Linked DNA regions of Homo sapiens. The protein of the gene in region 1 purifies or fractionates together with the protein of each later gene. This does not show direct contact. Each region holds a gene or a part of one and is shown in the gene's direction. Other genes may lie near its edges.

What was found.
Region 2: the proteins of CTSC (region 1) and POC5 purify together in Homo sapiens (co-immunoprecipitation; one large-scale study listed by IntAct). This does not show direct contact.
Region 3: the proteins of CTSC (region 1) and ARMC9 fractionate together in Homo sapiens (co-fractionation; one large-scale study listed by BioGRID). This does not show direct contact.

The regions. Positions count from the first base shown.
Region 1 is NC_000011.10:88,293,015-88,296,491, reverse strand, and holds the end of CTSC (dipeptidyl peptidase 1 isoform a preproprotein), read left to right. Parts: intron 1-227; coding exon 228-359; intron 360-1,983; coding exon 1,984-2,486; 3' UTR 2,487-2,900; downstream 2,901-3,477. UniProt on the Homo sapiens protein: Thiol protease. Has dipeptidylpeptidase activity. Active against a broad range of dipeptide substrates composed of both polar and hydrophobic amino acids. Proline cannot occupy the P1 position and arginine cannot occupy the P2 position of the substrate.
Region 2 is NC_000005.10:75,703,859-75,707,512, reverse strand, and holds part of POC5 (centrosomal protein POC5), read left to right. Parts: intron 1-1,725; coding exon 1,726-1,809; intron 1,810-3,654. UniProt on the Homo sapiens protein: Essential for the assembly of the distal half of centrioles, required for centriole elongation. Acts as a negative regulator of centriole elongation.
Region 3 is NC_000002.12:231,275,025-231,278,678, forward strand, and holds part of ARMC9 (lisH domain-containing protein ARMC9), read left to right. Parts: intron 1-1,611; coding exon 1,612-1,751; intron 1,752-3,357; coding exon 3,358-3,434; intron 3,435-3,654. UniProt on the Homo sapiens protein: Involved in ciliogenesis. It is required for appropriate acetylation and polyglutamylation of ciliary microtubules, and regulation of cilium length. Acts as a positive regulator of hedgehog (Hh)signaling.

The DNA.
Region 1 (3,477 bases):
AAGTCCCATGTACTAATGTTTGCCTTTTGATGAAAAAGGATGAAATCTTAATGATTGCCTTAATAAGCTCAACAATGCTTGTTAGTTGAGTCTTCTTATTGTGCTGATTCTTATAAACAACAACATTCAGTATAAACATTAATGTATGTGATTCACTAAGGTTTTTGCATGATTCTCTGTGAGGCTTCAGATGTCTCTTGGATTATGTGTCTTTTTTTCATCGCCAGCATCCTGTGGCAGCTGCTACTCATTTGCTTCTATGGGTATGCTAGAAGCGAGAATCCGTATACTAACCAACAATTCTCAGACCCCAATCCTAAGCCCTCAGGAGGTTGTGTCTTGTAGCCAGTATGCTCAAGGTAAGTGTTGCATTTCAGACACCATTTATGAGCTATTTACCTGTGTGCAGCTGGCTGTTGTTGGCAAAGGCAAAAGGATGATGCAGTAGAGAGAGCGCAGTGTCTATAGTCAGAAAATCTGAGTGCAAGTCTGGCCCTATCACTTATTAATGGATGATTGCTCATGGAATTTACTGTACCATCCAGCAAAATGTCAATAGTTACTATATATTGAGTGAGCTCTGCTTGTTACATATATTGCCTAACAATGCTCAAAACTCTGAGAAGTAGTAAGTATAATCCCTATTTATGGGCGGGGAACAGGAACTAAGAAATTTTTCTAATAATTTGAAGGTCTCACAGCTTTTAGCATTGGAGTTTCACTTCTAATCATCGTCTCCAAAACCCAACTTTTATTAAAACTATACTAACACTGGTTTCTCTCTGGGAGAATTTTAAAATTCTGTACTTAGGGCTGGGCACAGTGGCTTATGCCTATAACCCTATCACTTTGGGAGGCTGAGATGGGTGAATCTCTTGAGTCCTAGAGTTTGAGACCAGCCTGGGCAACACGGCGAAACCCCTTCTCTATTAAAAATACAAAAAATTAGCTGGGCGTGGTGGTGTGTGCTTGTAGTCCCAGCTATTCAGGAGGCGGAGGTGTAAGAATCACCTGAGCCCAGGAGGTCAAGGCTGCAGTGAGCCGATATCATGCCACTGCACTCCAGCCTGGGCAAACGGAGTGAGGCCCTGTTATGAAAAAAAAAAAATCTGTACTTAGGCTTTCAGATCAGGCTGTATGTGATGTATGTCGAAAACACAGCTATAATTGATTGAGGGAGAAACGTTACCATTTTAAAGTTTATGCTTTCAAGCCCAGATTTGGCCACTAGGAATTTCCCAGCTCACTAGTGAAACTGCTGATGAGTGATTATTTGCCAGTGAGCCTTTCATTCTTTCTAAAATATGTACTACTAGTTGTGACTTGTAGGCTATAGGGGCTATAATATATCAAGACAATCTTTATCCTCATGAAGCTTACAGTTAAGTAAGAGATAGAGATTAAATAATTATAACAACAGAGTGAAGAACAGTGAAGAAAAAGTACAGAGTTATAATATATATAATAGGGCCAGGACTGCATGAGGAAGGTAGGAAAGACATTTCGGCAAGAGGTTGTCAGGGAAAAGACTTGCTTGAGAAAGAGCCAAGTTGTGGGGTCTGGCTGCTTAGCAATGACCATAATACCTAACTTTTGCTATTTTTACATGAAGTAACTAATTTAACCCTATGAGGAAAGTACTACTACCATCTAGATTTTACAGGTAAGTAAGCAGAGATACAGAGAAGTTAAACTCTTCACACGGCTTTGGCTTTAAACCTATATAGGCTTCAGAGCCTCCCCACTTAACCACTTTGCCATAGCTACATCCATATTAGGTGCTAAGTAGATATCTGTTAAGTAGAAGGAGGATGAAAGGATAGTTAGCTAGTTGGAAAATGGATGGATGAATGAAGTGATGCTTAAGCTAAGAACAACTTTCAGGGGTAACATGCAAAGAATAATGGAGCAAAGAAGAAAAAATAGAAAATGGGATAATCCTTTTTCTACTAAGGGGTAACCATGTGTGTTATTCATCTTCAGGCTGTGAAGGCGGCTTCCCATACCTTATTGCAGGAAAGTACGCCCAAGATTTTGGGCTGGTGGAAGAAGCTTGCTTCCCCTACACAGGCACTGATTCTCCATGCAAAATGAAGGAAGACTGCTTTCGTTATTACTCCTCTGAGTACCACTATGTAGGAGGTTTCTATGGAGGCTGCAATGAAGCCCTGATGAAGCTTGAGTTGGTCCATCATGGGCCCATGGCAGTTGCTTTTGAAGTATATGATGACTTCCTCCACTACAAAAAGGGGATCTACCACCACACTGGTCTAAGAGACCCTTTCAACCCCTTTGAGCTGACTAATCATGCTGTTCTGCTTGTGGGCTATGGCACTGACTCAGCCTCTGGGATGGATTACTGGATTGTTAAAAACAGCTGGGGCACCGGCTGGGGTGAGAATGGCTACTTCCGGATCCGCAGAGGAACTGATGAGTGTGCAATTGAGAGCATAGCAGTGGCAGCCACACCAATTCCTAAATTGTAGGGTATGCCTTCCAGTATTTCATAATGATCTGCATCAGTTGTAAAGGGGAATTGGTATATTCACAGACTGTAGACTTTCAGCAGCAATCTCAGAAGCTTACAAATAGATTTCCATGAAGATATTTGTCTTCAGAATTAAAACTGCCCTTAATTTTAATATACCTTTCAATCGGCCACTGGCCATTTTTTTCTAAGTATTCAATTAAGTGGGAATTTTCTGGAAGATGGTCAGCTATGAAGTAATAGAGTTTGCTTAATCATTTGTAATTCAAACATGCTATATTTTTTAAAATCAATGTGAAAACATAGACTTATTTTTAAATTGTACCAATCACAAGAAAATAATGGCAATAATTATCAAAACTTTTAAAATAGATGCTCATATTTTTAAAATAAAGTTTTAAAAATAACTGCATTATGGAGTTTATGTTTACTTCAGGGAATTTTTATCACTGACTCAGTAAGATTCACTTATGTTACCTATGTAAGCATTTATTTAAGAAGGAAAAGCATTTGAAGATATTTCAATTAAAAACAAAACTATGAACCTTTATGACAGGGAGATATACTCAGATAATGCCTAGTGAATCCTAAAATTATCCTTGGATGTTTGATGAGTCTGAGACCTCAGAGAAAAGAAATAAGAGTTTTGACAAAATCTGGATATTGGTGAATTTATTTTCTATGGTGTGTATCTTGTATTTGGGAGTATTGCTTAGTCTTCAGTAGGTGAGCAATAATAGCTTAATGAGTGAAATACTAGCAGCTTAGATTTAAATAGATTTTTGGAATCTCCCAGAGATATTTCACAGTGGATATGAAACCTCTATGCTAAGTAACATATGCCTTCTCTTAGAAATTATGTAACAGGAGAATAAGGCAGTCAGAGCTCTGAAACATAAACACGGACCACAGCCTTTTCAAGCTGGAAAGGACCATAAAGATCATGTAATTTAAACTCTTTGCACAGATAGAGACTCAACTTAGAGGGC
Region 2 (3,654 bases), on another chromosome or scaffold:
AGAATAATAAAGTTGAAGCAATGCTATGGCAACTGCATGGCTTTTTGGTATGTTGTATCTCAGTACTTGTTCCAACAGTTTTATGCCAGGATTAACCTGAAAACTAAATGCCCAAGACTAAAATTAAAGATGGTAACCCTGAGAGTCTCTTAAATTACTTTACAAACCTCATGCTAGTGCTTTATCAGCAGTATTTATATGGGCATGGAGGACTGTTTGAATAATTATCACAAGGTGAACCCATCTGTGGACCATGTCAGCAACAGAACTGAAAGCTACTATAAACCAGGATGTGTGTTGATAGATGAGTGAAAAGTGGAGAAAAGAGGATAAAGCTCCTTTTACCTCCATTCCTTATTCAGGTGAAGACAACATCCCAAACTCTAAATAAATGTTCTTTCAAAGGGCACAGAAAGCCTTCCTAAAACAGTCCTGATAAGGACCAGTTATCACACTATAGGCGTAACTCCAAGGATCCCTGTCCTTGAAGGCGCATGACATAGCCTACTCAGAGGCCAAAGGCTCCTGGGCTTCTGCTAAGTCATAGCTCTAGTGTCTGTTGTCTCTCATTCTCTGTAGACGTGGATTTTTCACTGTTCCTCTGTCTTTGGCCTGTTGCAGTGGAACAACAAACAGGACCACAGGATGAGAGCCTTAAAATACAGGCCAGGCAGTGGCTCATGCTTGTAATGCCAGTACTTTCAGAGGCTGAGGCAGGAGGATTGCTTGAGCCCAGGAGGTTGAGACAAGCCTAGGCAACATAGCAAAACCCTAGCTCTACAAAAAAATTAGCCGGGCAGAGCAGCCTATAGTCCCAGCACCTTGGGAGGCTGGGGTGGGAGGATTGCATGAGCTCAGGAGTTCAAGGCTGCAGTGTGCCATGATTATGCCACTGCACTTCAGCCTAGGCAACAGAGCAAGACTCTGTTTAAAAAAAAAAAAAGAAAAAACTTTCGAGATGCTGTAGTCAACAGTTCAAGGTAATCATCTGGGATTTAAGACCATTGTTCTTTTCTCTTATGTAAGATAGCATTTATTTATTCTCTGCCATTTCCAAAAAGGATTTGAGATTAAAACATACGTTATATAGTAAGTTTAGATATCCTTTAGTCATCTTGATTCACAAGTAGACTTTGTTAAAGTCTTCTATGTAAATTCATCATCCCACATTCTCTTTATTCTTGGTATCTCAGTTGCTTGATAGAAGGCATGGTATGTGGAAATTGGCAAAGTATGTGTAAGCCTCTAACAGTCATTCTTGAGAGGTTTTTCCCAGTTTCCTTTTTGCCATCTGTTGACTACAGGTTCCTGAAGTGGAAGCAAATGTTTTGGGGGAGCCAGTGCCACTTGAGTTTGATTGTGGCTAGTGAAAAGCAGCGGGCCTCTGGAAATACCCAGTGTCATAAGAGAGCAGATCCTTTTCTAAGTTCTAATGTCATTCACCCACTTATTCTCTTAGTGTGAATTGAATGCTATAGTAGACTACATTATCTCTCATCTATATTTGGTGCATAAGTTGGAGCTTATCAATGATATAGTAAGTCTTTTTCTAGTCTCAGATTTTTATCTGTTCTTGTCCTTTGTTTTAGTGTTCCTATATCCCCAGCATGTTGTATTTTGTTTGTTCTAAAATATTATGTACTGCTACCTTCTTAAATTATGTGTGATTAGACATTTTATTTAAGAGTGGTTCAGTTTAATTTTAAAAAGCTTTCTTTTTGGCAGGAAATAACTCTGAAGTAAGAGAAACTGCAATAGAAGTTGGAAAAGGATGTGATTTCCATATTTCAAGTCATTCAAAGACAGATGGTATGATTTTTCTTTAGCTTATTTGTATTAATATACAACATTTTGTGGTTTGATGAATATTATCTATGTAGTAAGAGGAATAATTTCAGCATATTATTTATTAGCAGGATTTTAAAATGCTATTATTGCTAATTTAAGTGATAATATTTAAAATAATTTGATAAGATACCAAAATAGTACAATTAAGACAGGTCAATGCATTATAGTGTGTAGTATCCTTTCTTAAAATTGCTAAGTTAGAGGGCAAGTCTTTTAAAAGATTTAATGGGATATTAGATAGTTTGGCCAATTCAAGTTTTTATGTAAACCAATGCACTGTTTCCCAACTTTCAGGCATTTGCGTACCAGTGTAAGGATTTTCATCCTATCTTTATGCCACCTGTTACGCCATCATTTAGTGTTTTTCTTTAAAAGTCTGCTTTGTCTTTGTTAAAAGGGAAGATTAGCAAATCTTAAAGAGGCTTTTTGGGGGGATTGTTTTTTGTATTTTTTTAATTTTGTTTGGTTTTTGAGACAGGATCTCACTCTGTCACCCAGGCTAGAGTGCAGGGCTCCCTGCAGCCTCAACCTCCTTGGCTCAAGTGATCCTCCTGCCTCAGCGCCCCCTCCCCCAGTAGCTGGGACTACAGGCACATGCCACCACACCTAGCTAATTTTTAACTTTTCTGTAGAGGTGGGATCTCACTATGTTGCCCAGGCTGGTCTCAAACTCCTAAGATCAAGTGATCCACTTGCCCTGGCCTCCCAAAGTGCTGGGATTACAGGCATGAGCCACCATGCCTGGCTTTAAAGAACTTTTAAAAGCATACTAGAACTGGACTGAGACTTTTTTCTTGACTAGTCAGAATAATTAATTAAAATGTAATATTGTGGAATATTTTTCTATTTAATGTTATTTAATGTGGTAACCATTTTTGTCACCACGTAAGTAATGCCTCTAACCCTTAGTTTCCTCACTTGTAAGTAGAAGTCTTAGGCATCATAATCTCTGACAGCCCTTACAAGTTCTGAAGTTACATGATTTGATTTCTTAAAAGGTAAGTGTTGAGATATTTTTTAAATTGAAAAGCAGAGTCTATCGCTTTCTTTGTGAGTACAGATCTAGTTGGCAAAATCAAGTAAAAGAGAATATTCATGTACATTGTCATTCCACCTGTTCTTTGGGTTTCTTAACCATCCTCAGAACATGCAGATAGCATTTCATAGTATGACTAGCCCAGACCTTGTGTTATGTTTTTTATACCAAACACACATGTTAGGGAATTATTTTCCCTTTTGCAAAGAAGTCTTTACATAAGCAGAATATGTTTGCAAAAAAACTAAAATCTTACAAATTTTAAAAAAGAATTCTTGAAAGATTTAAGTAACAAGTTCTCTATCATAGATTCATCTTTCCTTCAGTAGGAAGAAAGCTCTTCCATCTTTGTTATTAGGATGCTCGTAGCAAATGTGAGATATGTGACAAGTGATGACAGATAGTCTCTAATTCCAGCATAAATATGTGAGAAAATATTAACTTTTCTTTCTCAGTGCTTTTTTTTTTTTTTTTTGAGACAGAGTCTCGCTCTATCACCCAGGCTAGAGTGGGTGGCACGATCTCGGCTCACTGAAACCTCTGCTTCCCGGGTTCAAGCAATTCTCCTGCCTCAGCCTCCCAAGTAGCTGGGACTATAGGCACGTGCCACCATGCCTGGCTAATTTTTTGTATTTTTAGTAGAGATAGGGTTTTACCATGTTGGCCAGGCTGGTCTTGAACTCCTGACCTCATGATTCGCCCACTTCAGCCTCCCAAAGTGCGGGGATTACAGGCATGAGCCACCGTGCCCAGCCTTTCAGTGCTTTTTT
Region 3 (3,654 bases), on another chromosome or scaffold:
TGGTGAAAAAAATACTTCCTCCTGGTAATGCAAATGTTTACTGCCTGTTTATCTTTTCCTCTAAGTGTTAATTTAAGCTTTTTTGTTCTGTAAATGTGCTTAACCTTTTTGCAGTTTTCCAGAGTCTCTGCAATAAATGAAGAAGGTAGCTAGTTACCAAGAGAGCGCAGTCTTCACTGTATTCTAATAAGCCACCCTGATTGGGTCAGTGTAGTGTTTAAGAACAGGATGAACGGATAACTGGTTCTGCTGTTCTGTCCTGAGTGGTGGTTTCACCATAACCTGCGCATCCGGAGATGTGCAGAGCTGGCTTCTCTGTGGCATGTCAGTTTTCTACTAATCCAGATGGCATCTCATAATGATACCACACTTAGTCTCAGCAATTCTTAAAGCTAACCTGATGACATTCACCATCACACATTTTGATGGGGTATTGGATTTTGTAAGATTCTACACCTGGACTTTGGGTGGAAAATCATTCCTTATAATTTGCATTAACCAGGTCATTAAACTACCCTTACTCTATAGAAATGTGAATCAAAGTGATGTTAAGCTAGGCTTTTGCTCCTCCTTGTTTTCTTTATTTTTATACAGCTCAGAGTGCCTAGAGCTGGATTATAGAGCGTTTAGGTAAAAATCTATTTGTCAGCTGGGCACGGTGGCTCACGCCTGTAATCCCAGCACTTTGGAAGGTTGAGGCAGGCAGATCAGCTGAGGTTGGGAGTTCGAGACCAGCCTGGCCAACATGAAGAAACCCTAGCTCTACTAAAAATACAAAATTAGCTGGGTGTGGTGGCGCATGCCTGTAATCCCAGCTACTTGGGAGGCTGAGGCAAGAGAATCACTTGAACCCAGGAGGCGGAGGTTGCGGTGAGCCGAGATCGTGCCATTGCACTCCAGCCTGGGCAATAAGAGCAAAACTCCGTCTCAGGAAAAAAAAACAAAAAACCTATTTGTCAAAGAAGTATTTCTATGGTCCTGTTTCCTGGGTTAAGTAAACCAAAAGCTACAAATAAATATTTATTAGATATTTGAAGCAATGCTCTGCTAATTTTAAATATTGAAAAGGAAACTTTCAAAGTAGGAGGCCTCCTTACCACCTTATCTTTATTTAAACCCTTAATAAATATCCCTGAAATGTAAAGAATTTTTGTTATTTCAATTGTATGGGTTTAACAAAAATATTCCTCAGAGTCTATGTCTTCTGTAAGTTTGTCTTTTCTGATATGCATTCACATTACTGTTTCTTCTTTTTTTTTTTTTTGAGACAGAGTCTTGCTCCATCGCCCAGGCTGGAGTGCAGTGGTACGATCTCGGCTCACTGCAACCTCTGCCTCCCGGGTTCAAGCAATTCTCGTGCCTCAGCCTCCCAAGTAGCTGGGATTACAGGCGCCGTCACCACGCCTGGCTAATTTTTGTATTTTTAGTAGAGACGGGGTTTCACCATGTTGGCCAGGCTTGTCTCCAACTCCTGACCTCAGGTGATCCGTCCGCCTTGGCCTCCCAAAGTGCTGGGATTACAGGCATGAGCCACTGCTTCCAGCCTACTGTTTCCTCTTATATGAAAAGTTTCTTGGCAGTTTGTATTTACCGTAGGCTCTTTCTTCCCAGGCGCCCGCTGCAGACAGCGATGATTCAAGACGGCCTCATCTTCTGGCTGGTTGATGTTCTGAAGGACCCTGACTGCCTGTCTGACTACACGCTGGAGTACTCGGTGGCTTTGCTCATGAACCTCTGCCTCCGCAGCACAGGTCTCAGCCCCGACCCTCATTCTAGTGCAAGAAGGGGAAGAGATCTTGACTCTTGAAGCTGGGTTTCTAGTGAGCCTGATATGGTTTGCTTTTAGTCTCATAGAAAACTAAAAACAGAAAAAGGAGTAGAAAGCATTTCCAACTAGGTATCAAGCTGTTGAATCCCTGAAGGCAAAATCCATTCTTGCCCTGGAAAAAATGTCTTGTATATATGTAGTGCCTGCATTAAGAGGAGACTAAGTTCATTTACCTTTTTCTTTATTGCATTATTCAGAGGTAGGAAATTAAGAATATGATCCCCTTTTCTGAAGACAAAGAAGTGTGTTCCCAAGATACTATAGGATTAAGCTGGCCGCAGTAGCAGTGACACTAAACCACACTTCCTGCCCTGAATCACACTCTTTTCCCTGCCCCAGCCCTGGAGGTGGAGGTTCTCCTGTGGGCACAAGTCATTTATATACTTGATCAGTCATTTATATACTTGATCGCTGAAGGTAGTGATTTGAGCTTTTCCAGGTACAGGTACTATCTCATTTAAATTGTTACCTGGGATGAAAGAAGCTTCTTTAGAAGAGGTGCCACCTCCAGGCTGTGGCTTTCCCCAGCCTGAGCATCCAGTGTTAGGAGAGAAAGGCTCCCTGGGTAAACAGCTGGCTCAGGAGGACTTGTTGGAGCATCTTCCCCTCTATATACTTTGTAGACTGAACCATGTAACTGTGTGTTGTTGACTGAGTAAATGACTGTTATTTCAGTCATTTAAAAAAATAGCATGCAAAAAGTCCTAGCCTTTTTTTTTTTTTTTTGAGATGAAGTCACGCTCCATTGCCCAGGCTAGAGGCAGTGGCATGATCTTGGCTCAGTGGTGCAACCTCTGCCTCCCGGGTTCAAGCGATTCTCCTGCCTCAGCCTCCCGAGTAGCTGGGATTACAGGTGCCCACCACCACACCTGGCGAATTTTTGTATTTTTAGTAGGGAGGGGGTTTTACCATGTTGGCAAGGCTGATCTTGAACTCCTAACTTCAAGTGATCCACCCACTTCGCCCTCCCAAAGTGCTGGGATTACAGGCGTAAAGCACCGCACCCAGCCAAAAGTCCTAACTTCTAATATGTTTATCAGATTAGAATTAGCTTTTCTTCATCATCATCACCATATTTGCAGTGATTTTTATGATGATGTTTATAACTACTAAAATGCCTATATGGTCTTCCTGATGGTGGTGTCCGTGCGTGGGAGGGAGAACGTTGCTCTATAATGTATTGTGCTTTCACTGTAATGACTCGCTCTGTGCTCTGACCGGAGTAATAGCCACCACTTGGGATGGTTTACTGAGCACCGAGGTTCTATGCTACACTGAGTCCTTTACATACATTAGTCTACTTAATTTTGCATCACCTTTTGAGGTAGGTATGAATAGTAATCCCTGTAGTAAAGAAGAGGAAACTGAGGCCCAGATTGGTTACATGACTCACCCGAGGTCATACAGCTCACCCGAGGTCATACAGCTCATGAGCAGAGGAGCCAAGATTTGTCTCCAAGTCTACCTGACCTAAAATTGTGCTTCTGGGTTTAGACATGTCATGTTTAGCTTTGATTTGTTTCCCATAGGGAAGAACATGTGTGCCAAGGTGGCAGGCCTCGTGCTCAAAGTCCTTTCGGATCTTCTTGGCCATGAAAACCATGAGGTACTCATTCAGCACTGCTGGCCCTGGGCTCGGGGAGGCTACACTGGGGACCCAATGCCTGTGACCCCACAGGCACACAGCTGGCCCAGGATGGTTGCTGTATTTGAAAACTGTACATGTTCTCTGTCCTTCTGGGATTTTCATAAGCAACTGGAAATCTTTTATAATTTTTAGAATTTTGGAAGTCAGAAGCAGGATGTTCTTTCCGTCCCTGTCTGCT